Regions from separate parts of the Homo sapiens genome. Here regions 2, 3 and 4 are each linked to region 1. The links come from fine-mapping of genetic effects on gene expression. A gene starts in region 1. Each other region holds a variant in brackets. All regions are shown on one strand. Distances are between the middles of the regions.

Region 1 (8,108 bases):
AAGAGGTTGCAGCAAGGACCCGACAGTGCTTTGTCTGCTGGTTCAGATTCCTGTTGGGAAGGGGTTGGAAGTTAATGTCCTGCAGTCACCCCTGTGGATCATAGGTGTGCGTGTGTTTGTGTGTGTACCTGGGGATAGACAGGTAGGCTTCCTTGGGGGATATACTCATGTTGTCATGTGACCTCCGTTCTTTTCAGTTAACCATTTTGAAGCCTTAAAAAAAAAACTTCTTTTAGGTATTAGGGAGCAATACCCCAACTGATATCTGGGTGGCCAACATCTTGGCCACCATCTTTCTGGTAAGCACATCCCTTATGGAATGCTTGTCAAACACAGACTATGCTAGTTTGAATATTTCCGTCTGTATATGCACAACAGACATTCAACATAAGTAGAAATAGTGAATTCCTTCTGTGAGCCAGGCACTGGGCTGGGCCTTGGAAGCCAGGTTAGAGACCCGGGAGATGATCTTCCTTCCTTTCCAATTGCTCTGTGCCTGCTGATGCTGTATGATACTCTTATTTATCTGTGCTTAGAGTGAACTATCCAGGTTTTCTTAGTGAGAAGAAAATTATGGAAACTTAGGAATAAGGAGCAGAGGATATAGCAAGGGGAGGAGGGTAGAATTAGTTTAATAAAAGTACCAACACAAAAAAAATTCTATCTGCAGGCTAATAAACGATACAACATATACACAAGTGTATTAGTTCATTCTCATGCTGCTATGAGGAAACACTTGAGAGTGGGTAATTTATAAAGAAAAGAGGTTTAATTGACTCACAGTTCCGCATGGCTGGGAAGGTCTCAGGAAACTTACAATCACGGCGGAAGGCATCTCTTCACAGGGTGGCAGGAGAGAGAATGAGTGCTGAGTGAAGGGAGAAGCCCCCTTATAAAGCCATCAGATCTTGCAAGCACTCAATATCACGAGAACAGCATGGGGGAAACCGCACCCATGATTCAATTACCTACACCTGGTCCCACCCTTGACACGTGGGGATTATTACAATTCAAGGTGAGATGTGGGTGGGGACACAGAGCCAAACCATATCAACGAGCCTCCTTTTGTTTAAGGAATCATGGAGCTACTGTAAGATTCTAATATATAATATTGTAGAGAAAAGAAATTTCCCCAAAATATTATGACTAGGGGGCTTTTCCCCATCATTCTAAGTCTTAGCTTGATTTTGCCCTAGGAGACTTCCTATAGTGGGAATTAATTATTCATAATTTTTCCTCTCCTATTACAAGCTTTCCACATACTCTTAGATGAGAAAAGTGAGTGGCCTCTGTTAGAGAGTTCTTATGTGCATTTGGACTTTCTTTACTGGAGCTGTCTCATTTTCTAAACTCTCATTCAGTAGCTAGAACTTTTTTTTTTCTCAGACACGTTTCCAGTTTCCTTTTCTCAGATATATATTGTCAAATCATCTAGCTCACTAGTGTTAATCACTCTGTTCCTAATATATAGCAATAAAATTTCAGAAGAGAATCTTAGTAAGATTACTTGCAGGAGTTCAAGAATGTGGCGTGTTCTTAAAACTAGGGGACAAGGTTGATTTCAACCATTGTTAGCATTATGTTTCTGTAATCTTAGCCCTGAATAAATTACTCAAGCATCACAAAGATCATTAGACAAACAACAAAACAACAACAAAATCCCACCCAGCAGCACCATTTGTATGTCTATGCCAGTGTCTACTTCTGTCATACAGTTTGTAAGTATTAGAGGTCGGAGGTGAAAAGGAAAGGTTAATTAGCCCAGCCTTTTATGCAAAACAGGTTGCATAGCATTTTCTCCATAGTAATTTTGAGAGAGAGAGAAAGGATAGACTTTACAACACATAGCTGTGGGGAAGGAGGTTTATTATTAAACAGAGATAATAAATAAGTGTTGGAAACCACACACAGCAACTGGAGCTTAGCTTTTATGTGTCTTGGTTGCCAGCAGCTTTTACTACTTCAACAGATCCTGACAACAATAATTAGAATTCAAGGGAAGCAGGAGGAAGGTGATTAATCTTGCAAACCCATTTCTGGTAGCACATCAGCACTGGTCTGGGGAACGGGGACACCTGGTTCTTCCTCTCTCCTGCCCCATGTTCTCCACACTGGCTGCAGCACACATCTGTCTAGTGACAGATTTTAGAATAGCAAACCCTGGGCTGTATCAAGCGCCAAACAAAGGCCAAATGACACAATAAAAGCATCATTTATCTTTCAAAAACTTCTCCGCTACTGCCAAGAGGGAGGACCCACACCTGGGAAAAGATTGTCTCTCTTATATGGAAGAAACCTGAATTGTTTCCACGTTGCTTTTTCCTTGACACCCAGGCCACTTTCCATCGGGTTGTCAGGATACTCCTAAGAAGGGGAGTCGGAAATGCCAGATGTTCTGTATCACCTTTAGTTAAAAACCAAGCCTCCTGTTACTAGAGACCATTCAATGTCCACTATTCCCTTTGGTGAGTTACTTAAGGAACTGTGCGTCTCCACCTGCAACCCCATGCCTCCTCTCCTGTTGAATTCCCAACAGCAGTTATTGCCCCTGTCCCCAATCCCCACACTAATGGGGGCCCTACAATTTAGGGCAGAGGCCATTTATTACAAAACGCTCTTGAAACCTGATCCCTCCACTCCTCCCCTAATTTTGGATGCACAGTTTAAGTAAGGAATCTCTTAGCACTTAGCGAAGGCTTCTTCGCTGTGGCAGATATCACAATTGTAACTGGGCCCTCATCAGACTGGGAGCTTCCTGTGGGTGGAAGCTGCATCCACAGAGCTTAGCAATGCTTTGTGTACTCGGTAGGTGCTCAGTAAGCCTTTGCCTGGGCTCTGGGAATATAACTCCTTTGAAGTACAACATACAAGCAGTAAAGTGCAGACACCTGCAGTGAATGTACAGATCAATGGATTCCACGTGTGTATACACAGAGGTTTACAATGGCCACCCAGAGGAGCGTTACAGAACATTCCCCTAGAGACTCCCTTGACGCAGGGAATTTAATTGCCCTCCCTTCCATCCTGTGCAGGCAGGCTGGTTGCCAGTAAAGGGATATGAGATGCCCTGATGCATCCGCAGACAGAACCCTTAGTATGGGGGGGAAGGACCTGTCATTCTAGAGTAAAAGTAAGACCAGGAAGATTAAAGAAGACAAAAATTTAAAAATGCAAATGGTGAAAAGCATAAACAACTATTTTCCTCTCTCCCCACACTCACCCAGAAGCACCGGGGCCAAAGAGAGGGCATGGGAGGTCTCAGGATCCCCTGCCGCCCCACCACTGCCCTGATGCCCGCTTGTGACGCAGAGACCGGAGTGGCTCTGAAATTACTGTCTTCAAAGCAGGCCAAACCTTGCTTGACACGTGCAAAGTTCCAATCTCTTGCTTCTCAGCTCCCCGCACGCGCGGGCCAACGTGCACTTCTGAGCCAGATCACCTAGCCACAAGGAGGGGGAGAGAGGGGGAGATAGGAGGAGAGAGGGGAAGATAGGGGGAGAGACGGGGGAGAGAGAGGGAGAGGCAGAGAGAGAGAGAGAGACAGAGAAGAGAAAGGAAGCACCTGAGACAGAGAGAAAGAAGAGAGAGAAAGGAAGCAGCTTCCCCCAACGCTGCGGCCTTGTGTTTCCTCCCGTGTCAAACGAGAGGGCCCCAAATTGACCCCAAATGTTTTTTCTTCCTTTCTCAATCCAACATTTATACCAGCACGTTATTTCCAGGATGCCCAGGACCTCTGCTATGGTTGTGCTGCTGTCCCTGCAAAGGCGCTGGGGATGGCCGAGGTGGGGGATGTCTCTGGGGGCTGAAATACGCTGCCAGGGGAAGGGGCGCCCCGATACCACCCTCAGTGGCTGCTGGTTGGGCGACCGGTGGCCCTGGCTTGAGAAAGTGAAAATGTCCAATCTATTTTGCCTGGAGCCTTGGGTCTCTTTTGGATACGGAACCGAGCAGCAGTCCTCCACTTCGCCCTCTCCCGCCGCTGCAAGGGAAAAGGTCGTTTTCCTCGAGTCCCGGAGAGGCCCTCCAGGAACCCAGAGCCCCCCGGGGACACCGCCCAGCTCCCGGCGCCCGGCCCCGCCCCTGCGCGAACTCGGCCGCACCCACTTTCCCGGGCGGCTCCCCCTCCGTGGCCTGTGGCGTCACAAGGCCCCCAGCCGCCTGTGCCCCGCGGTGCGCGCCCCGCTCCGGGACCTGCCGCCACCGCCGCCCCGCCCTCGGCGGCACCCACACCCAGGCGCGCCCGCGCGCGCGCCCGGCCCCGTCCCTGTCTGGAAGCACAGCTGAAGATGGCGAGCCCGGCGCCTCCGGAGCACGCCGAGGAGGGATGCCCGGCTCCTGCCGCCGAGGAGCAGGCGCCGCCGTCGCCGCCACCGCCCCAGGCATCCCCCGCAGAGCGGCAGCAGCAGGAGGAGGAAGCGCAGGAAGCTGGGGCGGCGGAGGGCGCGGGGTTGCAGGTGGAGGAGGCCGCGGGCCGGGCGGCGGCCGCGGTAACCTGGCTGCTCGGGGAGCCGGTGCTGTGGCTGGGCTGCCGCGCCGACGAGCTGCTGAGCTGGAAGAGGCCGCTGCGGAGCCTGCTCGGCTTCGTCGCTGCCAACCTGCTGTTCTGGTGAGAGCTTGGGCAAGGTGGGGGCGCTGAGGAGGGCAGGTGACCTTGGGGCGCCCGGGGCCCCGGGGACCCAGTGCAGGGGGAGCCCGCGGGACACTGCGGAGGAAGAATTGTCAGCCCTGCCCCACTTTCTCGGCCACCTGTCTCGAACAGGTAGACACTCACCGCAACTTTCCTCCGGACGCACGTCCCTGTGAGCAGTTGTCGTTCTCCGTGTGCGGATCCAGCCTCAGATGCGAGGTGGTCGGCCGACCCTCAGGCACCTGCACCTACAGGTGTTCCCATCGTGCTTGAAAACTTCGCCCCTGCTTTCTAAAACTCTGAGGTCTTGACCTGCTCGCCCAAGCTTGCCGGAGCAAACGTGCTTGAACGTGTCTTGGTTCTTGCAGCCCCAGCAGGCATATCTGGACCAGATTAGGTACCCGTTCAAAACGGTGCCGCATTCATCAGTCACCTGAGATGGGCCCTGAATGATTTGTTTTTTCCTTCCCCTGGAGCGTTAGGTTTACTGTGTTTACTCCCTGATGAGAAAACGGGAGGCAAACAAGCAGGTGGAGTATGCCCAGCACCCACCCCCGGGTGTGCACAGTGTGGAAAACAGGCATATTTTTAGGTGAAGTACAGGGAGAACACACGGGAATGCTCAGCCCCTGAGCAACAGGTTTGTCTCTCCAAAAAGCGCTCTTCAGAAAGGCCAGGGAAATGTCTGTCTCCTTCGTTGAAAGTGGTGTCCTGTCATCCGTTACCACGCTATTGAGGGCGGAGAAAAACCTTCTTTGTTTGCTAAGTGTCCTCATAACAAACATGACCTACACAGTGCAGAATAATCAGACTCCGGTAACAGATACCTTGTTACAGGACAGAGATTTCTGAACCTTAAAGTTGAGAAATAAATAAATTGCACAAAATAGACAGCCTGTCATTTTCTAGGTTAACTTGAGCAAGATGAATATTTTCCTCAGATCTCTGCTAGTCCTGGTGTTTTCTCTTAAAACTAGCTGTATCTTGTCGGAGGTCCCTGAAAGTGAATTAACTTTGGATCTCTTAGGTATCTGTGTTTGGAATAGAGTTTATTCCAAATCTATCTTATTATGGAGTGAATGCGAGCACTCAAATAAGAAGGACATATTGTCTTATGCTAGATTGGGCAATAGTCTAATAGTCTTAGGGCTGTGTCTCACTAATGTTTACGATGTTTTTAACATTTTATTTCTTTTTCTTTTCTTTCTTTCTTTCTTTTTTTTTTTTTTTTGAGATGGAGTCTCACTCTGTCGCCCAGGCTGGAGTGCAGTGGCGCGATCTCGGCTCGCTGCAAGCTCTGCCTCCCGGGTTCACGCCATTCTCCTGCCTCAGCCTCCCGAGTAGCTGGGACTACAGGCGCCCGCCACCACGCCTGGCCAGTTTTTTGTATTTTTTTTAGTAGAGACGGGGTTTCACCGTGTTAGCCAGGATGGTCTCGATCTCCTGACCTCGTGATCCGTCCGCCTCGGCCTCCCAAAGTGCTGGGATTACAAGCGTGAGCTACTGCGCCCGGCCTTAACATTTTATTTCTTAATTTTAAATTTTATTTCTTTAAAAAACTAATACAGTCTCACAGTGCAAAAGTTTAAAGGTACAAAAGGGTAAGCATTTTGAAAATCTCTTTCTCATCCCAGTCCCTGGCCGCCCAGTTTCCTCACGGAGGCCAGCAATGTTGCTAGTTTCCTGTGTCTCTTTCCAGATAGTGCACATTTCAGCAAATACACCATATTCTATGCAAATTGTGGAATAACATATGAGCTCTTCCTTTTCCTAGTATTTCTTGGTGATTGCTTCCTTGTTCTTTTTCAGCTGCTTCAGAATTCTATTGTAAGGATGTCTCAAATTACTTAACCTGTCTCCTACTGAGGCAGTAATGTTTCCAAGCTTTTGCTATTTCAGCATTATAGCTAATGACCCTGTACATGCATCATTTTGCATATATGCAAGTATTTTAGAGAACTTCCCAGAAGTGGAATTGCTGGGTCAGAGGGCATGTGCACTTGTAATTTTGATGGCTGTCACCATATTGCATGCAGCTCCTTAGGGTTCTAACAATTTATACTCCCACCAGCAATGTGTATGACTGCCTGCTTTGCCACACTCTTGCGAAGAATATTTTATGAAACTTTTTGATCCTGCAAATCTGATAGGTGAAAAAGACTATCCCAAAATGATTTTATTTTGCAGTTCTCTGTGATTGAGCATTTTATCTTATGTTTAAGAACTACCACATTTACCATTTATCAGCATTGTTTGTTTATAAATAACCTTTGTCTATTTTTTCAAGTAGGCCAGTGTTCTTTTCCTTATTGATTTATAGGAGCTGTTTTTATATTAAAGACTTTAGCCTAATTTCTGTAACATGAGTTGCAAACTTTTTTCTATGATGTTTTCTTTAATGACACCTATTGAAAATAATGTTTTTGCATAAAATAATTGAAAGGCATATTTGATAGTATCCAGGGGTGTTTTCTTCCATCCATTTTATTTATACTGACGGAGAGGAAAACATTGGCCAGCCATTCAGCCTAGATACAGCCTTCTCCTTATCTGTTTTATTTCATCTCCTGTTTGTGGCATCTGCATTCCATGCATGTATTTTCTTTGACAAAAATGACTGTCCTGTTCTTTAAGTTCAGAATTACTTGTTGCTTTTGCATTATAATTCATTGGAATTTATGACCCATTTATTAATGTCATTAAAATTTTGTTTTTTTTTCCCTTTTATTTGTTGCTCTGGGGGTTAAAATGATTTTCAAGGACATTACGTTTTCTTTAAATAATGTATTTCTTCTCAAATGATCTTAAATTATGTGATACTCTAACCTTCTGTGTCTTGGGAACTCTAAAGCACTGTATTTTCTATGAGAAAAAAAGATCAATTTTAAAACTGTGGGGAACCCAACCAAATCTGTCTTAAGCAATGGGATGTTGTTTTCACTTTAATTGATGTATTTCATTTTTGTGGAAGTAAACTTTTTAAAGATATATTTTTGAATGATTTAGCACCTGGCATTAGCAGTGGGTTTTAGGAGTCTGAATTTGACTCAAAAGCTTCAACATTTATTACCTGCCCATTATCTGCAAGATTTTGGGCAAAAATTGTGACACAGCCGTAACCAATGGGTATAACTAAAAGTTGCATGAATTAAGTGTGGTGGAAGATTCAGGAAAGGATAATTCATTTTGATATGGTTTTGGGGAACGTGGTATTGTGGATGGAAGAGATTGTGGGGTTCTTAATAAGGAGATCATGCTTAAACCTCAGTGGATAAGAATGATTTGGGAGATCTAGTAGATGATCAAGAGCATTCTAACCCTGAGGAATACAATGAACACAATAGCATCTTGAAGGTGTACCTAATATTTCAACCACTACACAGTAAACAGATGCAATGGCAGCATGGGCTGGTAGAAAATGTAGTGGGAGATAAGGTTGGCTAGGTGGTTTGTGGGGGCAGTAGTTGCCTCAGATGCTATG
Region 2 (8,108 bases), 120 kb after region 1:
TGGAATTCTGAGTTTCAGCTGGGTGGTGGCCACCAGCAATTGAACTATGTTTCCTAGGCTCTCTTGCAGGTAGGCATGGCCATGTTTCTATGTTCCAGCCAGTGGGAGGTGAATGGAAGTTGCACAGGCAACTTGCAGGCCATGACTTTAAAGAGAAAGGGGAATTATCTCAGCTTCTTTTTACCCCTTCCTGCTGGTGGCAATGTGGATGGGGCAAGGTCCATGGGGTGGCAGTGTGATTTGACAGTGTCTGAGCAATGAGATGGAAAGGGCCTGGGTCTCCAACATTATGGATGTCCCATATCAGCCTGGGACTTCTATGCTCTGCTGTGACATAAGGGAGAAATGAACTGCTCTCTTGTTTAGACCACTGTTGCTTTGACATTTGATATGATAGGAAAACCTATATTGTAATACATATAACTGTTTATGAAAATTAAGTCAAATGCATTGGAGAGAGTAAGAGTAAGTTGCTAATACTACTTTTTTTTTTAAGTGTGGACAAAACTAAAAAGGTTTGGGGGGATGAGCAGAAAAATTTAGAATGATCCTTTACTTGGGTTTGACTTCTGTCATTAAATCCTTGCTCCTTTTTTAAATAAATAAAACTAGAAATCATGCCTAATACATCAATTTATTTGAAGCCCTAAATCAATTGGCAATTTGATAACCCCCTCAGTCCCCGCACCTAAGTGAAGATTTATTGGATTGAATCGAATACCACAGGGGTGGACTGCTAGGTTTGTTAGTCCCCAGTCAGCACTCAACTTATACCCTGAGTCTAAGAATATTCATACTCATCTATTTTTTTTTTTTGAGACAGAGTCTCGCTCTGTCGCCCAGGCTGGAGTGCAGTGGTGCAATCTCGGCTCACTGCAAGCTCTGCCTCCTGGGTTCATGCCATTCTCCTGCCTCAGCCTCCCGAGTAGCTGGGACTACAGGCACCTGCCACCATGCCTGGCCAATTTTTTGTATTTTTAGTAGGGGTGGGGTTAACACCACATGGAAGCCACCAAGGCTTATGGCTTGCACCCTCTGAAGCAGCAGCCCGAGCTGTACCTTGGCCTCTTTGAGCCATAGCTGGAGCTGGAGTGACTGGGACATAGGGAGCAGTGTCCCAAGGCTGTTCAGGGAAGAGGTGGCCTGGGCCTGGCTCACAAAAACCATTATGTCATCCTAGGCCTCTGGGCCTGTGATGGGAGGGGTTGCTAGATGGTCTCTGAAATGCCTTTGACAATGGGGCTTTTCATTGACTTGGCTATTTGCACTTGGCTCCTTTTTACTTATGCAAATATCTGCAACCTGCTTGAATTCCTCCCCTAAAAATGGGCTTTTCTTTTCTACCACATGGCCAGGCTGCAAATTTTTCAAACTTTTATGGTCTGTTTTCCTTTTAAATGTAAGTTCAAGTTTCACATCATTTCTTTGCTCACACATATAAGCATAGGTTTTTAGAAGCAGCCAGGCTACATCTTGAACACCTTGCTGCTTAGAAATTTCTTCCACCAGATACCTAAATCATCACTCTTTAAGTTCAGAGTTTCACAGGGCAGGGGCACAATGCAGCCAGTTGCCTTGCTTAAGACATAGTAAAAGTGACCTTTGCTCCAGTTCCCAATAAGATACTCATTTCCTTCTGAGACCTCATCAGCCTAGTCTTCATTTTCCATATTACTACCAGCATTTTGGTCACCACCATTCAAGTCTCTAGGATGTTCCAAATTTTCCTTCATCCATCTGTCTTCTTTTGAGCTCTCCAAACTCTTCCAACTTCTGCCTATTACCCAGTCTCAAAGCTGCTTCCACATTTTTATTTATCTTTACAGCAATGCCCCCACTCTTCAGTACCAATTTTCTCTATTAGTCTGTTCTTGCACTGCTATAAAGAAATACCAGAGACTGGGTAATCTATAAGGAAAAGAGTTTTAATTGGCTCATGGTTCTGCAGGCTCTACAGGAAGCAAAGTGGCTTCTGCTTCCGGGGAGGCCTAAGGAAGCTGCCAATCATGGCAGAAGGCAAAGAAGAAGCAAGGCACATCTTACATGGCCAGAGCAGGAGTAAGAGAGAGCAGGGGGGCGGTGCCACACGTTCTTTAAACAACCATATCTCTTGAGAACTCACTCACCATCATGAGCACAGCACCAAGGGGATGGTGCTAAACCATTCATGAGAGTCTGCCCCCGATTCAACCACCTCCCATCAGGCCCCACCTCCAACACTTGGGACTACAATTTGACATGAGATTTGGTGGGGACACAGATTCAAACCATGTCATTAACTTTCTACCATTTTTTTTGTGTCATCTATAATCCCAGGTTCATACCCATACCCATCTTCCCTGCATACTGTTGTTGAATATTATATTTATTAATTTACCATTAATACATGTACTATTTACATAATAGCTTATTCTCAAAATCTGCTATTGAGGGAGACTGAGGGCAAGTTTAGCAAGCATTGTCATTTTTTTCTGTGACTGATAAGGGTCTGATTCTCTTAGTAAGAGTGTATTCCTTTAAAAGCCTCTGATTATTTATGTGAACATAAATGAGAGATACACTCTTTAAAGGACTAAGTTGGGAATATGACCTAATTAAACAGCCTAGCATCTTGACTGAATATCTTAATGTGCGATAGTCACTCCAAGTTTGCCATCTTCCAGGTTATTGCTTTTTATTACAAAGGCTGATTCTACAAACAAAAATAATTTGAATTGGCCTTCATAATAAAAGCACTTTGGAGAAACTTGAGAATTCAGTGTTTGAGTTGTATATACCTGGTGCTCAGGACCAGTGTGGTGGGTACCATCTCTAAAAAGCAAAATTAGGAACAATATTGTTAATGACTTTTTTTTTTGTGCTGTAGGAAACATATTTTTTAGTATCCTCACAGGTTTCATATAAGTAGGCCAAATGTTGCAATGCAGGGAAGGGACATTTACTTTTGACTCCAACTACAGTAAACCCTGGGTTGAAATTCATCAGAAATTGTGGATCTTCAGTGGAATGCAAGAAAAGACTTATATCTAAATGAGCCAGCCTGCTTCACAATAACAGTTTTGTTTTCCTTGAGGAGTGTTTCTTGACTATCTGATATTATCTGTCCTTCAGGGATAAAGTAGAAATATTTTCTGCCCTCAGGGACAGTGATTGAAGCAAATCTTGGCATTCACAAATGAAAGGGTGTTGAATCTCCTGCAGGTCTCAAGTAGGTGCTTGTCCTATGCTAGTAATGGAATTTGCATTACTCATGCCCTGGGCTTATGAAAGTCTAGTTATTAAAATGTTAAAATTAAAAACGCTGAAAAATGACTTATACTTGGCATCTTGTTCATAGAAACTTGAAACTGTAATAAATACTATGATGGGTAGTTGAGTGTCAGCCTCCCAAATGATCTAGGTGGATTGGATAATTGATGATCACCTGGAGAAGTAGCAGT[G/A]CTCAGTTTGAGATAGGAGGTGGAAAGGGTCAATCGCAAAAGTAAGTAGCTGATCTCTGAGTCGTTTTAAACTTGATATAAAAAAAGGGAGAGCCCCAAATAGAACACTAAGTTGCTCTGAGGAAGATGGGGCTCTCCGGGCAGAAAGCTTCTCCAGGCAGAAAAAGCCAGCACTCACTGGCGCCTTCTGGTCCCTGGCCTTGGGAGGAGTCGCTCACGTGGCTAATTGGCCTGAGAAAGTGAACGCTTCAAGTTGAGTGCGATGTAATTTCTTAATCTTGTGTTTACTCTTTTTAATCCTCTAGTTGACAAATCTTATTTGCGTTGTCATGGTTCTAATTCAGTGAGTGCTCATGCAGAGAAATATATCTGTTTTTATTTTGTTTCTCTGCCTACATACAGTCATATGCAAGCACCTACACACAGAGGAACATAATAAGTATCCACAGGATTAAAAAAAATTCTAACACATTACACTAAGAAATGTTAAAATCTGTAACCAGATACTGACTGACCTTTCTAAGAAAAATTCGACAGGAATTAGCATCAACAGATGTCCACTACCAGTAGAGAGCATGAGACCCTTAGTCACTAGCTGAGAATGAAAGGTCTCCAAGCCAAAGCATATTTATAGGTGTGATGGTTGCAGCAGCTGTTTGTCATGGTTGCCAGGTGACGAGTTATAACAAATCCTTTTTTTTTTTTTTTAAGTTTGTCAATATGGAATGGTGACTTAGCAAACTTTCTGAAAAATATTGTTTGGCTTCAACTTCCATTTCTTATAAATTGAAAATAAAATAATGAGTAGTGTGAAATAATGTATACTTTCTGGAGGTATTATAACAGAAATCAAAACATCTTTGGAAATGATTATTGCACTATAAATTCATAAGGATGTGAAAAAGTTAAAACCTAACAAGAATGGTGTGTGTGTGTGTGTGTGTGTGAGAGAGAGAGAGAGAGAGAGAGAGAGAGAGGACAACACTGTCTGAAAATGTTCTCCAGCGGGGTGCAGTTGCCCTACAAAAACTTGAAAAGCAAAACCAAAAAGGGAGTCATTTTTCTCTGATATTTCATGTGAAGGTTGGATATTCGTCAGGGCCCAGTTCTGTTCTCTACTGGTATCACAAATGCTGGTGGGCCATGTGGGAACAGTGCCCGCAGGAGATACTCATGGATCCAGGGATCCCCAAGTCACACATTAAGGCTCAAGTTTTGCCCGCAGAAATCTCATATGAAATACCGATTTTCAGTTCCAGAAAGTCTTGGAATATATGAAGCATCTTTCTTTCTTTCTTCCTTTCTTTCCTTTCTTTCGTAGAGACAGGGTCTTGCCATGTTGTCTAGGCTGGTCATGAACTCTGGGGATCAAGGGATACTCCCGCCTTTGTCTCCCAAAGTGCTGGGATTACAGGTGTGAGCCACTGTGCCTGGCCCGTATTTCCTAATTAGCTAATTTTGAAGGCATTTTAACTGCCCATTTGCAAGAAAGAACAAAACAAAACTCTTCCCTATAGATGACAGTTGTTTTCTAGATTTTTAATAGGACTTTTTGTCTATTATTTTGTATATTTTTATACATATGAGGGAATGCATGCTAATTATTACCAACACGTAATGTATAGAAACATTCGGATAAGTGAATTAAAAACATGGTGCCACCAAATAACCACTGTTAATTATTTTTGATATTTTCTTCTTTGGATGTTTACTGTTTATATTCATTCAGTATTTTTATGTGCCTCATAGATGTCAAGCTCTGTTAGCTACTGAAGACAGAGCACTGTCCAAGAATTCCTTCATGGGATTTAAAGTCTCATAGGGAGTCAGTGTTACAAATGTCATAAATTAATTGCAATTCATAGTTGCCCTGAAAGAACGTTACCAGATGCGACGGTCGTGGTCGGTAACCAGGAGATCTGCTGTGTTTCAAGCCCTTTTCAGCCTCAGTTTTCTCTTGGGTAAAATGGAGATAACCCTGCCTTGCAGGGTATCGTAATGGGATGGGGTCCTAGGGGGATCATGTGGAGGACATTGGGACAGTGCGGGCAGAGTGCTTAACATAGTGCCTGGCACACAGGGAGAGCTTAGCAGATAGTTGCCATGGTCATGGTTATTATGGGCACGTGTTGTAATTGAAGTTTGTGAAGTTGGGTTCATGATTATGGAATCACTTTGTGGGTACTAATTTAGGAACAGCTGGAGGGGTTCAGAGAGAAAATAAGAATCTAGATGCCTTAGGACCAAGGAGTTTCACCTGGGAACCAAAGCCGCTTTTTAACTATTTTGATTTCTATTTGTGTAGCTTGGCATTTAGGGATCCATAATCCTGCCTGTGGCACTGCCCTAATGTGCTTCCCTACTCATCTTTGCAATGGTCCCCATGTTCCAATCCGGAGAGTGTTTTTTCTGTATCTCGCCCCACATTAGGAGCATTCCCAGTTCTATGCATTACTTCCCTATTCCATTGTGGATTCATTCTGTGACCTTGAACAAGATAGCTAATGTATCTGGGCCTCAACTTTCTCAATCTGTTGAACAGGAATAATAAACAGTAGTTCACTCACAGGTTGGTTGTAAGGATTGAAGTAAGTAGTAAGTTTATAAGATAGTAAGTTTATAAGATGCTGTTCACTACCTGACCCCTGGTGAGTGTTAGCTATTCTTTTTTATGGTGCCTGTAACCCCCTTTATTTGAATTGTTAACAAACTGCCTTTGCTTGATTTATTATATAACCTAATTGCATCTTTCCTTTCTACTACAAATTGCCACCTAAATAAAACTGTCATAGTAATCTGTGTAATCTTATAACTCTTTTTTAATAGTTACGTTTATTCATAATTTAAGATATTTTAAACAATTTTCCATTGCTCCCACTGAAACATGGGACACTTTATTTTGTTTTACAAATGCCAGAAACCAGCTTAAGGCACAAGGGAACTGGCTCCAATTATGGGGGATGTCCATGGGTGGATTTGCTTTGCACCTTGCCTTTTGGGCCCAACAGGACCCAAGAACTCAAACCTGACTATCAGGATTCATTCATATTCTCTCCCTGCCTCCCATATACTTTCTCCCTCCCTCTCTTTTTCCATCTACTCCAGGTTTCCTATCTCTGGTTGGTAATTATCTCCTCAAATCTAAAGCTCAAGAAATATGTGAAAATATTTTAGCTTTGATATATTAAAAATATAATTTTTTGCTTTCAAAAATAACTGAGTTGTAAAAACACTTTTAAGTTCATTAGTATATGCTAAAACATTGTCCTGTAAAATGTACAATAGTGAAAAGATCTTACATTTAACAAGCTCTCCTCATATATCCAATCCCCAACATAGTTTTCAAATTCATGTATCTCCAATAGCCCTAGATACAATTAAATGCCATTTTTTAAAGGTGAGTTTCATGTATCACCAGTGTGTGTAGGCTTTGCATCATTCTTGGGTCACATGTACACTTTAACTTATTGGTTACAGGCTGTGCCTTAGTCAACCCTCAGTCCCAGAGCCAGGAATGGTGACAGTTAATGTACATTCACTGCATATTTATTAAAACGAACAGAAGTTAAATGATAATGAGATAGTATTTCTTCTATGCCAAGATTCATTTTGTTGCAGCATTATTTTTTCTAGTGCTCAAAGATACTATTGGTGAAAGGGATGAAACAGGCTGCTAGCACATGTTCTGTCTTACAGAATTACAATCTATTTTTAAAGAGCACAAGAGTGTCCTATTTCTTAGTCTTACAGAACCCCCTAATGGAGAATACTGTGTGCTGCATTCTGAAACTGCCAGCCAAGTGCATTAGAAATTCCATTATGCAGGCATTAAACTACACAAAGACAAATCTTATAATATTTAAACATTGTTTTGATAACTATATTTTTTAAGGGAACAAAGGTACATGATAATTTAAAAGATACACATAAAAGTAAAATAAGTGAACTGCTTCACATCCCAGTTTGACTGAGTTATTTTGTTCATAACAAAACTCACCACTTTGTATCCTACAGTTGGCGGTTGAATCACTTAAAATCAGTTTGATCCTTTTAAGGTCTGCTTTTTTTTTTTTTTTTTTTTTTTTTTTTTTTTTGAGACAGAATCTCGCTCTGTTGCCCAGGCTGGAGTGCAGTGGCGCTATCTCGGCTCATTGCAGCCCCTGCCTCCTGGGTTCAAGTGATTCTCCTGCCTCAGCCTCCTGAGTAGCTGGGACTACAGGCGCATGCCACCAGGCCTGGCTAATTTTTGTACTTTTAGTAGCGATGGGGTTTCACCGTGTTGGGCAAGATGGTCTCGATCTCCTGATCTCATGATCTGCCCACCTCGGCCTCCCAAAGTGCTGGGATTATAGGCGTGAGCCACCACGCCCGGCCTAAGGTCTGCTTTTAAGACTTGTTAGGACCAGAGCCGCATTTAGTTTAGGACTGATTATTCTCTGCTACTGAGGCAAGACCCTTCTGAGTATTCTACCCATGTCTGTGAATTTTGAAGTTTTTCGGTCTAGTTGGTGGGACTAGGTGTCATTCTTGGCCAAAGACACTGTTCCTTCTAGTCCTTTCTGATGGCTCTTTCCTGGCCTCCGGGCTCCTCACACGCCTGTGCCAGCAAAGCCTCAGCTGAAGACTCCAGGAATCCCCCACATCAGACCTCTCCCTTTATCTCCCTCT
Region 3 (8,108 bases), 20 kb after region 1:
CTGGCCTCCACCTCCTGAGTCACTGAGATTACAGATGTGAGCCACCACACCCAGCCTGTTTTCTTCTTTTTCTGGAGATCTTACTGGTCAAACGTCAGACTTCTTGGATTGCTCCTGATTTTCTCAGTTTTTCTATTTTCATCTCTGTCTTCTGTTCTGCTTTCAGAAAGCTTCTTGTATCTTTTGCATTCTACTGATTTAAAATTTCTGGTCTCATTTTTTGTTCCAAGACATTTTCCTCATTTTTGATTTTTTTTCCTTTTAGATGCGTTTGTTTTGATTCTTAGATTTTTCTCTTCTTTAATAAAAAGGAGAAGATAGTTTATTCGAGGTTTTCTTGTGTGTGTTCTGAGTTCCTTATTTCTGTGTATTTTGTGTCTGTTAGGTGTTGAAGGCTTTCCTGAAATATCTAAGGGGTCCTCAGATTTCCTCTTCCTGTTTCACAGTAAAGGGCTCCAAGGCTGAGCGCAGTGTGCTGGGCTGAGGAGTGGCCACTTCACAGCGTTCACTGTGGGTCATCAGCATGCTGACCTCTCCTGTGGGGGCGGGGCAGGGAGGGGAAGCCTGACTCCGAGTGTTCTGGGAGCTGTGCCAGGGAGATGATGAACACGTGGGGGTCCCCATCAGAATGTGCCTGGCATCAGCTCCCTGTTCTCAGCGTGGTTCCTCTGCCCTGCTCTCTTCTGTCCTGTTACCCCCGGGGTCTGAAGCCCTTCCACTTTAATTTTTTCAGAGAACAACCTCCTACTTCTGTCGGGGTGGAGGAGAGGTCCTCTCTCCTGACCTTGCTGGGTGGGTAGTAAGATCTGAAGTTCTAACTGTTCATCATACAGATTTGTAGGCTGGGCACAGTGGCTAACGCCTGTAATCCCAGCACTTTGGGAGGCTGAGGTGGGTGGATCACCTGAGGTCAGGAGTTCAGGACCAGCCTGGCCAACATGGCGAAACCCTGTCTCTACTAAAAACACAAAAATTAGCCGGGCTTGGTGGTCTGCACCTGTAATCCCAGCTGCTCAGGAGGCTGAGGCAGGAGAATCGCTTGAACATGGGAGGTGGAGGTTGCAGTGAGCCGAGGTCACGCCACTGCACTCCAGCCTGGGTGACATCTTCACACCTGTCCTCGCCCCTGCCTTCTCCCAGTTCCTTCCACCCCCACGCTTTCCTGGGACCTGCAGCTCAGGGGGACGTGCTTTTGGGGGCCTTACCCTTGCACCCTTGCAATTCCCAGCGCTCTTTCTGCTGCTCGCTCAGTTATCACCCTGGAGCTTGCTTTCCATCTTCCAGATGTTTGTTGATATCCCCACTGTTGTCTCCTTTCCTGCTTGCTTTTAGCCTCATGCATGCATATCTTTGTCAGTATTTTTACTTTTGATTCTGGCGTGGTTTGGGGAGGAAGAGGAGAAAGATATGCATGTTCAGTGTGCCATGCCTGACCACAGGGCTGGCCTCCCTACCTGAATGCTGCTTCCAGCAGAGCAGAGAGCAGTCTGTTGCTTCAGGCATGTATCCCAGCACCGTGGTATATGGTAGGTGCTCAGTAATTGAATGGGTAAAACTTTAGTGACACCCTCTGCTTTTTCATCCACTTCCTCATGATTCCCATACTTTTGGGCAAGGTATCCAAGTTCTCTGCTCACCTCCCTTGAGAAGAAGAATTTCTCTTTTCCCATTTCTTTTCCAAAATACTGTGTGGTTGTGATAATTCCTATCCAATCCAAGTGCAGCACTTTATAGATTTTAAATTAAAAATTGGCGTGATGATAATTTATTACTGAGTAGTAATATGTGTCTAGATTTTGAAAAGTTTACTGATTAGAATATTAGTGAATGGAGTATATTTGGTTCTAGCTAGTCTCACTAAAGCATGAGAATGGCATTTCATTACAGCATTTCTTTTTATTTGTAAAAAATTTACTTATTTTTTCCTTTTTATTGAGACAGGGTGCTGCTCTGTTGCCCAGGCCGGAGTGCAGTGGTGTGATCTTGGCTCACTGCAACCTCCACTTCCGGGCTCAAGCAGCCCTCGCCCATCAGCCTCCTGAGTAGCTGGGACTACAGGTCTGTGCCACCACACTCAGCTAATTTTTAAAATTTTTTGTAGAGATGGGGACGCACTCTGGGGTCTCACTCAACTCCTGATTGAGCCAGCCTGGGTAACATAGTGATCCTCCCACCTCTCAAGTGATCCTCCCACCTCAGCTTCCCAAAGTGCTAGGATGGTGAGCATGAGCCACTGTACCCAGCCTGTAACATTTAAACAAATAGAGCATGATTTGTGAATGAAATGCCCCAGTATCAAACTCTAAATCGTAGGTGTCTTCAGCCTACCTTGATCTGACATTGAACTTTAACTGTAGTGGTCCTCCAAGATCTTGGTGGGGTCCATCACTTACAAAGGATGGTTATAAAGGATGGTTAAAGGTGGTTCTTAGTGTTTAAAATCTCTTGGGAGAGATGACATGGAAAGCAGCAACTAGTTTGGTATGACAAATATGAGTAACAGGTATCCAGGCTGCTGCTACTATGGGAAGGAACAGAAGTCCTCCAAATCTGGTGACTGCAGGGAGGTCACACTTTTGTGAGTTGTGAATGCTAAGTAGAAGTGGTTTGGGTGAATCAACGTAAGCAGAGCCTTCCAGGCTGAAGGAGTCACAAAGGCTCCGAGGGTGACAGTGAGTAACACGGCCCTGGTTTGTTTCATTAGCAAATACTCACTGAGAACATGGTAGGTAGAATCACTGTGCTAGACACTGGGGACACGGTGTCTTCTTCCCTCATGGAACTCACAATGTGGGGAAGAAACTCAGGTCAGATATCCTTTCCAGCACATTCTTTTAAGTGCCATGCTAGCGGTATGTAGGAAGGGCAGCCATGGTGGTTGTAGTCTGGAAAGACCTAGAAGAAGTGACATTTTAGCTGGACGTAGAGAGTCAGTAGGCGTTGGCCAGGTTGCTGGGGTGTGCAGGGGAAGGATTTGTTCCAAGCCCAAGGGAGCAGCATGTGTGAAAGTCCAGAGGGAGGAGTGTGGACTGCCAAAAATGTGCACAGAGTTCCGTGTGGTCGGGAGGTGGGGAGATGGAAGGGGAGGGGGTGAGGCAGGGCAGGAGGTAGGGCACGGTGAAGAGCCTGGAACTGGAGTGGAGGGGTTTGGGTTTCATCCTGAGTGCAGTCAGAAGCAGGGGCTGCCCAGTTCCCTCCAGTGTAGTTCCTTACCCCTGGGGCAAGGAAGTCGTGCCAGCGGTCACAGGAGGTGAGGCTGGAAAGGAAGCAGGTCCAGATCTTCAGGGGCTTAGGTACTAGTTCCAGGACTGGGACCTCTTTCAGGCCTGGAGAACTGACGGGCCATTACAAACAACCCCTGGCACTGATGTGATTGGTTCTTTGTAGAAAGCACTTGAGGGGCAGTGAGGAGGGGCATGTGGGAGACATGTTGGAGGCTGAGAGTGGGGCAGCAAGGGGAAGTCTGTTTTCTATAGGAAGCCACTGGTGGGGTCACTCTTGTGGGTGGGGGAGGACCAAGGGCAGTGCAGGTTGGAAGTGCCCTTCTCCCTGGGAGGGTTCTGGAGGTGTGGCTGACTTCAGGCTGAGTGTGGGGCCTTGCCCAGTGCAGAATGCCATCCTGAGAGAGACTCCTGGACTCCCCAAGGGTACTCAGAGTCCAGCAGAGAAAGGCAATGTGCTTTTTGTGGCACCAAGGTTAGGGGTTAAGATTTATGATGCTTTTGGATTTAATGATGAAGGTACAGTGACAAATCAGTGAATAAGGATAATGTTACAATTCAGAACTAATGGGTGTGGAGCACTTATCCCGTGTCAGATATTTTAGGCCGTTCACCTGTAGTGTCTCTTACTCCATATACATAACAACTGTTGGAGGAGGTAGGTGTCGTTACTAATATTCACAATGACACTGAGGCACAGAGAAGTCAGGTGACTTGCCAGGGGCACACAGCCACACTTGTGTGGTTGCAACTGTTTTACACCTGGGTGGCCTAATTGTAGTTTATCCTCTACTTGCTGGGTTATTTTGCCCATTATATGCATTTGCCAGCCTACTTCTTCAGGATTCTTTCCACGTCCTTTGGTGTAGATGCATTTTTCTGTTGTCTGACAAATGTCAGTAGTCTAACTATTGACTGATGACTTCTAGTACATAGGTAAGCAGAGAATCAGCCAGACTCCTGTCCTATTGTTTCTCATGCTTTAGATCTTCAGGGCAAGCTTAAAGCATTTCTTTTTGCCTTTTGTACTTCCAAGGCCCAACATCTGCTTGCGTATAGAAGCTGCATAAGATTTTTGTGGTCCATTCTCTAGTTGGACCATTCTTTAGGTGTGACACAGGGCTTCTTTGTCACGTGTCTCCAGGCACTCACACAGAAAACAGCGTGAGTGGCATTCCCTGGAGTTGCAGTGAGGTTGCCTGGCTGGATGTTGTGGGCTTTGCTGAGTTTTGCCCTGGAGGGTGCGTGTCAGGCCAGGTAATTGGCCTGGCTTTGTGGGAACTGCCGGATCCTAGAATAGGCTGTGCTTAACTGAATGAAAAGAGAATTCATACTTTGGTCTCAGCAGGACAACTTTCAAAACAAATATTCTAGTCTGTGATTGACCAGGATGCATTGAGTTGAGAGCGTCACTACTGCTTACATTTTAGGTTTGGCTTCGAGCGTAATGCTTAATGCTACATGGGTGCCAGTTTCCCCTTGTCAGCTTCCAAAAAGCCACTCTGGCAGCTTTTGCATGTGTTTTGCCAGTCTGCGTAGCAGGGAAAGAAATGTGCCTCTGGAGTGGCAGATTTCAGCAAAAGAATCATATTGAAATCATATCCCAGAGCTGCCCAGTTCTTTGAAGGCACTAGTCTGTTTTCAGTATTTCAAACGCATCATGGAAGATAATTATTTCTATGATCAAGTTGCACCAGCTCTGACCTAGTAAACCATATTATTTGTTTCATTGGCAGTTAAAACCTTTCAAAAGAAGGCATCC[A/G]TATGATGAAATGAAAGGAGAGGAAATCTTTGCTCCAGTTTAACCACCTCGTGTTACAGATGAAGAAACTAAGTCCCAAGGTCCCTCAGCTGGTGACATTATGACCCATATCAGAGTCTCCTGACCTCTTTTTTAAACTACATGCACTAAGTGTTGAGACAGTGAACATGATGAAACTTAGGAAGGCAAAATAATAATGTTCCCTAGTGTGAGAATCACTAATTATATTTTGCAGGTCAGTGTGGGAACTTTACTGTATTGGCCCAACCATGTCTTTGGGGTCTTTTGAGGGTCTGGAGTATTGACAGATCTCCTCGTAATCTTCCAGGACCCTAAAAAGCTCTTAGCTGTGAGATTCAGGCCGTTGTCTCAGACTTCACCATCCTTTCTTGCCCCCCTGACAAATGAGCCCGGGTTTGCTAAAAGTCACTTTGATATAAGGAGGCAGTCAAGGGCTTCCTCTTGCTCTTAGTAGTAATAGCTTGTATTTGATCACATCTACTTGAAACAGGTGTTTAACATTCAGCTAATGGTAGTGTAGCCTTCTTAATGACGAGAGTAACTCCTTCCAGAAAACTTTTCATAGGAAGAATTTTTGGCAGTTGAAAATGCATTTACTATTCCAAGGAAACATTTTGTTGTATGCTCGTAACTAACAAGTTATTACTTGTGTCTGCTAAAACAACACCAAGACCTGTTAAAATGGACATGGTCACTTTAATATGGTAGTTATATTAGTAATCATAACACAACTCAGTGACTTTTTTGGTTAATAAATTCTCTCTGAAAGAGCTGTTGACCTCTTTTAATTAAGCTCTTCTGTAGCTATTAAACATAATACAGGGTGCCTACAAACAAAACATACATGCACTCGGTGCTTAAAAAAAAGATCTTTCTGGTGAAATAAAAACAAAATATAAAAACAAGGACTATTAAAGGGGTCTATTAGAACAGCAAGGTTTAGGGGGCCTCGTGTACAAGACTGCGCATGACCGCCATCCTGACGGGACTCTCACCATGAGTCAGGAAATGGCTTCATGGTTTCTGGTCTGGGGCTCAGTTACTTATGAGTTGCATAGATCCAAATACCATCTTTGCACATGGAGAAAATGGCTCATAAGCTGAAGGAAGGATATTATATGAAACTCTCTTGCAACTGAGTTTCTGTAACCTGGATGGGTATATCTTGGGATATTCACTGCAGTCTGGAAACCTTACTTCATCTCTTTCTTCATTGTTTTAGAAATGAATGTATGTCTTCCTGGCATACCTTCTGAATTTAACTTCCAAATACCTTCTGGATAAATTGAAAACAACACCTTGCATCATTATGTCATCTGTCACATCAGAAACCTTTAGTGAGAGACTTTTAGCCAGTTTGTGATGGTAGTCTATGAAAAATGCTTTGTGTGGTTGTGTTTTGTTTTTTGTTTTTTTTGGAGTCTTGCTCTGTTGCCCAGGCTGGAGTGCAGTGGTGCAATCTTGGCTTACTGCAGTCTCCGCCTCCTGGATTCAAGCGATTTTCCTGCCTCAGCCTCCCGAGTATCTGGGACTACAGACATGCGCCACCACGCCCAGCTAATTTTTGTATTTTTAGTAGAGATGGGGTTTTGCCATGTTGGTGAGGCTGGTCTTGATCTCCTGAGTTCAGGTGATCCACCCGCCTCAGCCTCTCAAAGTGCACGGATTATAGGTGTGAGCCACCACGCCCAACTGAAAAATGCTATGTTAAGCGTTTAACTTTTTTTCTTATAAAAGTTGTCTACATATTTAAAGATATTTAACAATGACATTTCACGTTTGGCTCATTTTCATTCAGTCACATTTAAAAATCTATTCTAATACACTTAGAACTTGTAGCTTTCATTTATCAAAATGAAAGTTGGGCATCAGGAGAAATTTTGATTCTTAATCGTATCACTGAATACAGCCAAAAGGTTCAGCACCCTTGTACATCGATGCACTGTATGACTGAGAAGTTTAATTCTGTGTACATGCCAGCTTTTGTTTCCGATGGTGCCCATCAAATCTCTGCTGTGTGTAGGTTTTGCCTGGTACAGACAAGTTGTATCTTAAGATTGTGAGACTGTGATCTAATACATTTTGCTGTGGGCCTGTGACATTGAAAAACAGTGGGTGTTGGCCAAAGAACCAATCATGGGCTACCATCCCCAGAATGTCAGTGATGATCTTTGGCTTTTTGTTGGAACTACCAGGTGTCTAGAAAGAAGGCCAGACATTCGTTGTATTCGGATTTGGTGTGGCTTTCACAGTAAACATGGCTGCTTAGATTTGACGGAGGTGCATCTGCTGCAGCTCCTCTGGTGATAGGGACACATGAGTCAGCAGAGCACCATTCTCTTTGACCTCAGCCACACCATTGCAACATGACTTTAGTATGGGGCAAATTAGGAGAGCTAGATTTACTTCTCTTGGTTATCAGAGGCCAGGTCTTCTGAAAGAGAAGAAATAAGATTTGTCTAAGCAGATATCCAAGGGCCATTCATGTTATCTGATGCTTCCCAAAGGGTCTTTAATAAAAATGGTATAGACATTTTAATGTTCCCCATAGTTTTTTTTTTCCCCCAATTTGGCAAGCTGTCATTATTATGATAATGTGCTTTAAGGAATTTATGATTAATGATTACATTGATTACATGCATGGTTAATTAATTACATTAATTGAATCATTTGTACAACAAATACTGAATGAGCAACAGCAAACAAAAAAGTATTTATTGAGTGCCTGTGATTGGCATGCAGAGACCTAGTGCTTGGGTGACAGTGGTGAACAGGAGAGATGGTCCCTTCTCTCACAGAGCTTGTAGTATGGGGTAGGGAAGGACAGACAGATGGGAAACAAATGGCCAAGCAAACCAGCATACAAGTGGGAGTCAGAAGGCGTGCTCTGAAAGGAAAACACATCACTCCGGGGGAGCAGTGGGGTGACCTAATTTAACAGCAGGCTGCTAAGGAGACTGGGTGGAGTTTTCCTTGCTGAGTGTGACCACTGGGCATGGGATGGTGAGTCAGGGGTTCACTGTTGTGCCTTTGCCGAGCTTTAGGAAGCAAACGCCTTTTGTCAAAGAATCCACATTTTCCTTTTCTTTTTTTTTGAAAAACTT
Region 4 (8,108 bases), 41 kb before region 1:
GTAATTATGGAAGTATGTTTCCTTTAGAAGCAAAGCTACAGTTAGAATTTTGATTCCATGTGTGATGCAAGGAATACAGTCCCCAGTTTTAAGATTGTTGCTTTAAGTGTTTCTTACCCACTGTTTTGCATGAATCTCCTCCCTCCCTGCATTTCCTTATCAGTGCAAAGTGGCTTAGCATCACCTATCTTTGTATTTGATAAATCCACAGATGAATGAAAGCTTCTGTGGGACCAGATTCTATCTTCCCTCTATGTGCCCCAAGATATCTAGCATCGTGCCTGCTTGGAATGTTCTGGGCGCTCAATTTAGCCATAGATCATACCACTGATCTCCATAATAAACTTTAAGCAACTTATGGAGATCAGACAAATGCACATAAAATGTGAAATGACCACAAAAGGTAGCACAGCAAGTCTTGTGATAATCAGGAAGTAGTATTCCAGGTGCCAAGGCAGGTAGACTGATGTGACTGGGATGACGGGGGTCGGGGGGGAGGATGCAAGGTGGAGGGGTGTGGACCTTGAGCTGGCCTTGCAATATGGCAGGACTTGGGATGGGAGAGGAAGGGATTCCTGGTGGAGAGCGCTGGGAGCACAAGCGCAGGTGGGGTGTGGAGATGGGCATGGGGCAGGTGCAAGGCAGGGGTCAGAAGCCATGCTGTGGCTCCCTTGTCCCGATCCAAAATAGTGTCCTCATTAGTCTTCCACCCTTGCCCTCCCACCATGTGTCTATCCTATTCTCCACAGACCAGATACCTAGAGAGATCTTTAGAAAACATAAACCCAAATATATTTATTTCCTATGTGAAACCATAACTTTCTATACCACTGAAACGTAAATGTTTATTCCTTTACAGCCCTGTGTTTTTCTTCCCCCGCCCCCCACTCCCCGCCCCGCCAGACAGAGTCCAATTCTGTCGCTCAGGAGTGCAGCAATCTCAGCTCACTGCAACCTCTGCCTCCCAGGTTCAAGTGATTCTCCTACCTCAGCCTCCCGAGTAGCTGGATTACAGGCGCCCATCACCATGCCTGGCTCATTTTTGTATTTTTAGTAGGGATGAGTTTTCACCATGTTGGCCAGGCTAGTCTCGAACTGACCTTGTGATCTGCCCGCTTCGGCCTCCCAAAGTGTTGGGATTACAGGCGTGAGCCACTGCACCCGGCCGAGCCCTGTGTTTTCTGCCTCTGCGTGCCCCTCCAGCCTTGTCTCAAGCCTCTCTCTACCTCACTCATATTCCAGCCGGACTGGCTGTGGCTTAGCAGCATTTGTCTTGGTCATGCTTTCATTGAGTTCCCATTTTACCAGTCTCACAACTTAGAGCATTCTGCAATGACGAAGGTGATGAATGTTTCCTGGTGACAGAAGCTGTACTTTCTAAGCCCATGGCGATCTGGCCATCATATGTTGGTAAATGCTTACCAACTGGCTCTCTGGGGGAAAAAAACAACAAAAACAAAAACCCTGCTTCACAGAATTTGCTGATTTTTCTGGTGTAAATAAATAACCCTACCATGGCCAATTTCAGGCTCCAGGGTATCACCACTGGAAGTGGAGTTGGAATGAGATGCACACAGCTCACAGTCACCTCTGGCAAGCCGGTAGGAGCCAGAGGTCCTGCACACCACCGACAAAACACAATGGAGAAGAGATGTCTTTTGTTTAAATTTAAAAATGATATTTGCTGGTTCAGAAGACAACCTCTGAATGAAGTAGAAAGAAGAAACTTACAAAGCCTTAAGCACTCCAGCCTGTTTTGGTAGGGGGTGTAATTAAGGTGGGAAAATTAAAAATGTAGTATAGCATCTGTTTCCATCTTTAGTTTTCCCAAGGACTTCTATTTTTACTTTCAAGTAATAACTGGGTTACAGTTGATAAGCAGTTTGAGACATAAACAGGATTTACGGACTCTAAAGTATTCAGACATTTGCTTGGTGGGAACCAGTTGTTACATTCAAGTTCTCATCATTCCCTCATGATATGCTGGGGAAAATACCCAGTGATTCCTACAAATCCCATCTATTGGGGGAATAGTTGTCTGTGAGTTCACTGAATGACTTGGCATTCAGGAAATTTAACAGGCCTCTTAACTGGAGATAAGATAACCCCAAAGACCAACACCAACCATCTTTATTAAGTTGCTTAGAGGCTGTTAGTAAAATATATAAATATATAAGGCAATAAGACAATTAACAGAGTATGTGGACCATCTGGGTTTGTGTTGAAGGGGTCCAGAAAGAAAGTGTTCAAAGAGATAAGTTTTGAAGGGAGAACATTTAGCCCCCAGATGCAGATTTGTGGTATGCAGAGTGAGCACATGCCAGGGCAGTGGAACCAAAGAATGGCGAAAAGTCATGAGGCAAAAATGAGCAGAATGGGGATTTCTAAAGTAATTCTTTCTTACACTCTTTCCTTTGTGTTACTCTGTTAATAATCTCTCTTTGATGTAATCAATGGCATTAGTTAACATTTGCTCAGCACACGTTTCAGGCTTGGCACCAAGTGTCTGGTTTTGTCCTTGCCATGAGATAGGCACTATTTATGATCTATTTTAATATCTATTTTAGTGAAGCTACTGAGATTTAGAAAAGAGTTTATTTAACTTGCTGTAACAGTTAGCTTTGCTGTGTAACAAATCACCCCAATTTCAGTAGCTAAAATAACATCCACTTCTTTTTTTTTTTTTTTTTTTGGAGACAGAGTTTTGCTCTTGTCACCTAGGCTGGAGTGCAATGGGACATCTCGACTCACTGCAGCCTTCACCTCCCAGGTTCAAGTGATTCTCCTGCCTCAGCCTCCCAAGTAGCTGGGATTACAGGCATGTGCCACCATGCCCAGCTAATTCTTTGTATTTTTAGTAGAGATGGGGTTTCACCACATTGGCCAGGCTGCACTCCTGACCTCAGGTGATCCTCCCGCCTTGGCCTCCCAAAGTGCTAGGATTACAGGCGTGAGCCACCGTACCCAGCCCAACATCCACTTCTTTAGCTCATGATTCAAGGTGTTGTCAGTTTGAGCTGGCTCACCTGGGCAGCCTCTCCCTGCTGGGCCCGCTCATGGCTCTTCAGTTCAACTATAGCGAGGTGAACAAAGTTAACCTTGTCCAACTTTCTCATTTTGGGGACCTTGGATGAGAGAGTTGAGCTCCACTCCACATGTTCGCTCATCCTCCAGTTACCTAGCCTTGGCCAGTTTATGGGGCATTTTGCAAGGTCCCAAGAAAATGAATGGGAACAGGCAAGTCCTCTTGAGATTAAAATTCAAAACTGGCACATTGTTCGTTCCACCACATTCTACTGGTCAAAGCAAGACATAATGCCAGAGCATTGTCAGGAGGCAGGGAAATAGACTCCATAACTTTATGGAAGTTGCTGTAAAGTCATTCAACAAAAAGTTGGAGAATTGTGGCCACTTTTGTAATCTATAGCACTTGCTGAAAATCACAAGACTATTATGGACAGGGAATTCAGGTCCAGGGTCATCCGTCTCCAAATCTCACTTGATATACTTTGGTTATCTGTCCCTTTCCAAATCCCCCATGTTGAAATGTAATCCCCAGGGTTGGAGGTAGGGCCTGGTGAGAGGTATTTGGATCCTGGGGGAGGATCCCTCATGGCTTGGTGCCACGATAGCAAGTTTGTTCTCATGAGATCTGATTGTTTCTAAAAGTGTGGCACCTCCCGACTGCCCTTGCTCCCACTCTGCCATGTACTGTGCCTGCTCCCATGCCACCTTCCACCGTGAGTAAAAGCTCCTTGAGCCCTCCAGAAGCCAAGCAGATGCTGGTGCCAGGCTTGAAGAGCATGCAGAACCATGAGCCAAGTAAACTTCTTTCTCTATAAATTACCCAGTCTCAGGTATTTATTTGGCAATGGAAAAATGGCCTAACACATTGCCGTTTCATCACAAAACTATGCCAAATCCAAGCAGTTTCTCTATTTTTCACTGGCCTCCTGATAGGACCACACCCATTCTATGTGGCATAATTTACCATCTGATCACCAGCTCCCTTTAATTAGACATGTACTTTCAGCATAAACACACACATGCCCACAATCTTATTACCTTCTCCAAGTTTCTGCTCATATTCTTCTCTTGCTTGAAATGACCTTTCTCCCTATTCACATTCTCTTCATCCATGATAACTTGGTTCAGGTTTTAATTTCTATACAAAGCTGCCTGTGACAGAGACTGCTAACTAACACCCAGTAATCTGGCCTTTCTCTCCTTTTACCTTTTAGTAACAGAATTCCCCTACGTTTTGGCTTGCAATGCA[TGCTTAGCCAC/C]AGAATACATTTCCCAGCCTCATGTGCAGCTTAGTGTGTGTGGCCATTTTAAAACATACTGCAACTTCTTGTTACCTCTCCCATAAAAAGGTGAAGTCTAATTCTTATGAATATGGGTCAGCCATAGTGATTCACTTCTAATGAGGAGAATGTGGAAGAAATGATACTGCATGACTTACAAGCCTAGGTCATAAAAAGTGGTACATCTTTACTTACTGTTTCTCTGACATGTAAGAAGTCTCCCTAGCCAAAAGATGCCATGCCAAATAGACTATGTTAAGGAGGCCACACAGAGAGGAAAGCTTGACACACCCCAGAGGTACCATACCTCAGCTGTTTGTCTTCCCAACCTCAGCCATAAGATAAGTCAGTGAGTCTCTAGATTATTCCAGCCCTTAGCTTTGAATTACCCCAGCTCAAGCTGAGGGGAGCAGAGCTAAGTTCTCCCTGCTAAGATCTGTCCAAATTGCAGTTTCATGAGCAAAATAACTTGTTTAAAATGATCACTAAGTTCAGTGGTGGTTAGTTTCACAACTGTAGAGAACTGGACATATTTTGGCACTCTAAACATGAGGTGCTGCCATAACCAAACCTAAAGCATGTGGCTTTGGGACTGAGCAGTGGGAAGAAGCTGGACTTAAGAAACATGTTAGTGAAGCATCAAGGACTTCAAAGAAATCATTAGCAGAGGCTTGATGACCCTCTGGAGGATTGCTGGTGAGGACTTACAGGAAAGTGAGGAAAATATTATTGGAAGCTGGAAAAAGAAAACCTTCGTGATGCAACAGCAGGAAGTTTAGTAACACCGTTGCCTGTGGCAATGTGGGAAATAGAAAAAGCACCTAATGAGCTAAATGTTCCAGCTAAGGAGATTTCCAGAGAGTGTGTTGAAAGTACCACCCAGTTTCTTTTTGCTATAAAAAAATAGACAAGCTAAAGCAAGCTAAAGAAAGAACTGTTAAATATAAAGGAGCCAGGACTTTCTGAGTTGAAAATAAAACTGATTTTCATTCTTAGTTTCTCCAATTGACATAGTGATTGCTAAAATTAAGAAATGGTTTCTGGAAGATATCAAATTCAGGGCACTGTCAGGACAACATAGTCTAAAGATGAACCCAAAGGTGCAATTGTAAAACTCTATGTGACGTTCTTAGAATTAAAATCAAAGTTCTCTAGAGATCATCAGGGTAGATCCTTTCCACCACACAACTTGGGCTTCTAAGAATCTTTTTTTTTTTTTTAAGGCAGAGTCTTGCTGTGTTGCCCAGGCTGGAGTGTAGTGGCACAATCTGGGCTCCCCACAACCTCCGCCTCCCAGGTTCAAGCGATTCTCCCACCTCAGCCTCCTGAGTAGTTGGGACCACAGATGCATGCCACCATGACTGGCTAATTTTTTTATTTTTAGTAGAGACGGGGTTTCACTATGTTGGCCAGGCTGGTCTTGAACTCCTGACCTCAGGTGATCCACCTGCCTCAGTCTCCCAAAGTGCTGGGATTACAGGCATGAGCCACCATGCCTGGCCAAGAATCTTAAATGAATTATTCCAGAGTCACCTTTCAGGGATCCCAGTGTAGAAAGACTTATCTTGAGATACATAGATGAGGCTTTTGTTTAATGGAGTGAATTCCAGTAGGTTACATAGTAAACCCAAAATGTTGTAAGAGGATTATATGGAACAAAATTTTGACAGGCAGGACACAGACTGAAAAATCTAATCTGCTGCAAACATGGCTACATTTTATAGAAAAAGAAAAGTTGACTCAGAGGATATATCCAAGAAACCATGGAGGATGATTCCCAGTTTCCCAGCTGCTGGAACTGAGCCTTCATCAAGGCACTAGCCATGTGTGTCCAGCTGGATTTCAGAAGTGCCATGGACCAAGGAGTTCTGTGTGCTTCTTTCTCCCCACTGTGTGAGTTAGAGTGTCTATAGCAGTTATCTTATGCCAGACCCACCACTGCATGTGGCATCAGCAGGACAGAAGACTTGTCTCCTTAGTACATAGATCTTCAGATCAAGAAAATGATCTTCCATGATCTACACTCGAGGAACTACCCGCAAGGAGCCTCACCCATGTGGGAACATGATTTAGATGACAAGACCCTGGGCCTCAAACCTAAACCTGATCTCTTAATAGATACAACTTTGCAAGTCCTGGGATGAAGCAAGTGTATTTTGCATGAAGGAAACATGTAAATAATTTGGGCTAGAACATCAATTGTGCTGCTTTTAAAATACATCCACAAATTCTGTGATACTCCTCCCACGAAAAGGTGGAGTCTAATTGTCCCCTCCTTGAATATGGGGCAGCCCTAGTTTACTCACTTCTGACAAATAGAAGGTGACAGGAAAAATACTGTGTGACTCACAAAGCCAAGTCATAGACGGTGACACCATAACTTTTGCTTGTGTCTCCTTCTCCCTTGGGACATGTGCTTTTGGAGCCCTAAAGCCACCATGGTGAAGAGAAAGATACCCAAGGATTCCCAGCTGTGCCAACCCCCATCTATTTAAGTCTTCCAGGTACCAACCACAAGGCTCTTAACATGATTCCAGTCTCCAGCCTTCAAGCTGCCTCGTCTGATGCCAAGCGGAATAGAGACATGCTATGCTCACTGAGGAGGTTCCAGCCACTTCAGCAAGCCAGAAAGAGGAAGAAAAGAAAGAAATGGAAAAGATATACAACTGTTATTATTCACAGCTGATATGATGAAGCCCCTAGCTTATTGGCTGATCACGTTGGATTTTAAAACTCACTCAAAACCGCTCAACTACATGGAAACTGAACAACCTGCTCCTGAATGACCACTGGGTACATAAAGAAATGAAGGCAGAAATAAAGATGTTCTTTGAAACCAACAAGAACAAAGATACAACATACCAGAATCTATGAGACACATTCAAAGCAGTGTGTAGAGGGAAATTTATAGCACTAAATGTCCACAAGAGAAAGCAGGAAAGATCTAAAATGGACACCCTAACATCACAATTAAAAGAACTAGAGAAGCAAGAGCAAACACATTCAAAAGCTAGCAGAAGGCAAGAAATAACTAAGATCAGAGAAGAACTGAAGGAAATAGAGACACAAAAAACCCTTCAAAAAAAAAAAAAAAATCAATGAATCCAGGAGCTGGTTTTTTGAAAAGATCAACAAAATTGATAGACCACTAGCAAGACTAATAAGAAAAGAGAGAAGAATCAAATAGACACAATAAAAAATGATAAAGGGGATATCACCACCGATTCCACAGAAATACAAACTACCATCAGAGAATACTATAAACACCTCTACGCAAATAAAGTAGAAAATCTAGAAGAAATGGATAAATTCCTTGACACATACACTCTCCCAAGACTAAACCAGGAAGAAGTTGAATCTCTGAATAGACCAATAACAGGCTCTGAAATTGAAGCAATAATTAATAGCTTACCAACCAAAAAAAGTCCAGGACCAGATGGATTCACAGCCGAATTCTACCAGAGGTACAAGGAGGAGCTGGTACCATTCCTTCTGAAACTATTCCAATCAATAGAAAAAGTGGGAATCCTCCCTAACTCATTTTATGAGGCCAGCATCATCCGATACCAAAGCCTGGCAGAGACACAACCAAAAGAGAATTTTAGACCAATATCCCTGATGAACATCGATGCAAAAATCCTCAATAAAATACTGGCAAACCAAATACAGCAGCACATCGAAAAGCTTATCCACCACGATCAAGTGGGCTTCATCCCTGGGATGCAAGGCTGGTTCAACATATGCAAATCAATAAACATAATCCAGCATATAAACAGAACCAATGACAAAAACCATATGATT

The links.
Region 2: its variant is fine-mapped to the expression of RETREG1 in whole blood (INTERVAL, PIP 0.96).
Region 3: its variant is fine-mapped to the expression of RETREG1 in whole blood (INTERVAL, PIP above 0.99).
Region 4: its variant is fine-mapped to the expression of RETREG1 in whole blood (TOPMed, PIP 0.97).

What each region holds. Positions count from the first base shown.
Region 1 is chr5:16,613,150-16,621,257 of GRCh38, reverse strand. It overlaps RETREG1 (reticulophagy regulator 1), which reads left to right and starts at 4,261. Exons shown (of 9, transcript NM_001034850.3): 1 at 4,261-4,606. The coding sequence starts at 4,287. RETREG1-AS1 (RETREG1 antisense RNA 1) reads right to left here and starts at 5,332. Exons shown (of 4, transcript NR_109946.1): 1 at 4,772-5,332. RefSeq lists a silencer at 4,018-4,507.
Region 2 is chr5:16,488,509-16,496,616 of GRCh38, reverse strand. The region is part of intron 3 of RETREG1 (reticulophagy regulator 1); the gene reads left to right. Among named protein-coding and RNA genes, the nearest start is that of ZNF622, 27 kb to the right of the region's middle. The variant G/A (reference allele first, on the strand shown) is at 3,441.
Region 3 is chr5:16,593,033-16,601,140 of GRCh38, reverse strand. All of the region lies in intron 1 of RETREG1 (reticulophagy regulator 1), which reads left to right. Among named protein-coding and RNA genes, the nearest start is that of RETREG1-AS1, 19 kb to the left of the region's middle. The variant A/G (reference allele first, on the strand shown) is at 4,984.
Region 4 is chr5:16,653,653-16,661,760 of GRCh38, reverse strand. No RefSeq gene overlaps it. Among named protein-coding and RNA genes, the nearest start is that of RETREG1, 41 kb to the right of the region's middle. RefSeq lists a silencer at 4,907-5,201. The variant TGCTTAGCCAC/C (reference allele first, on the strand shown) is at 4,277.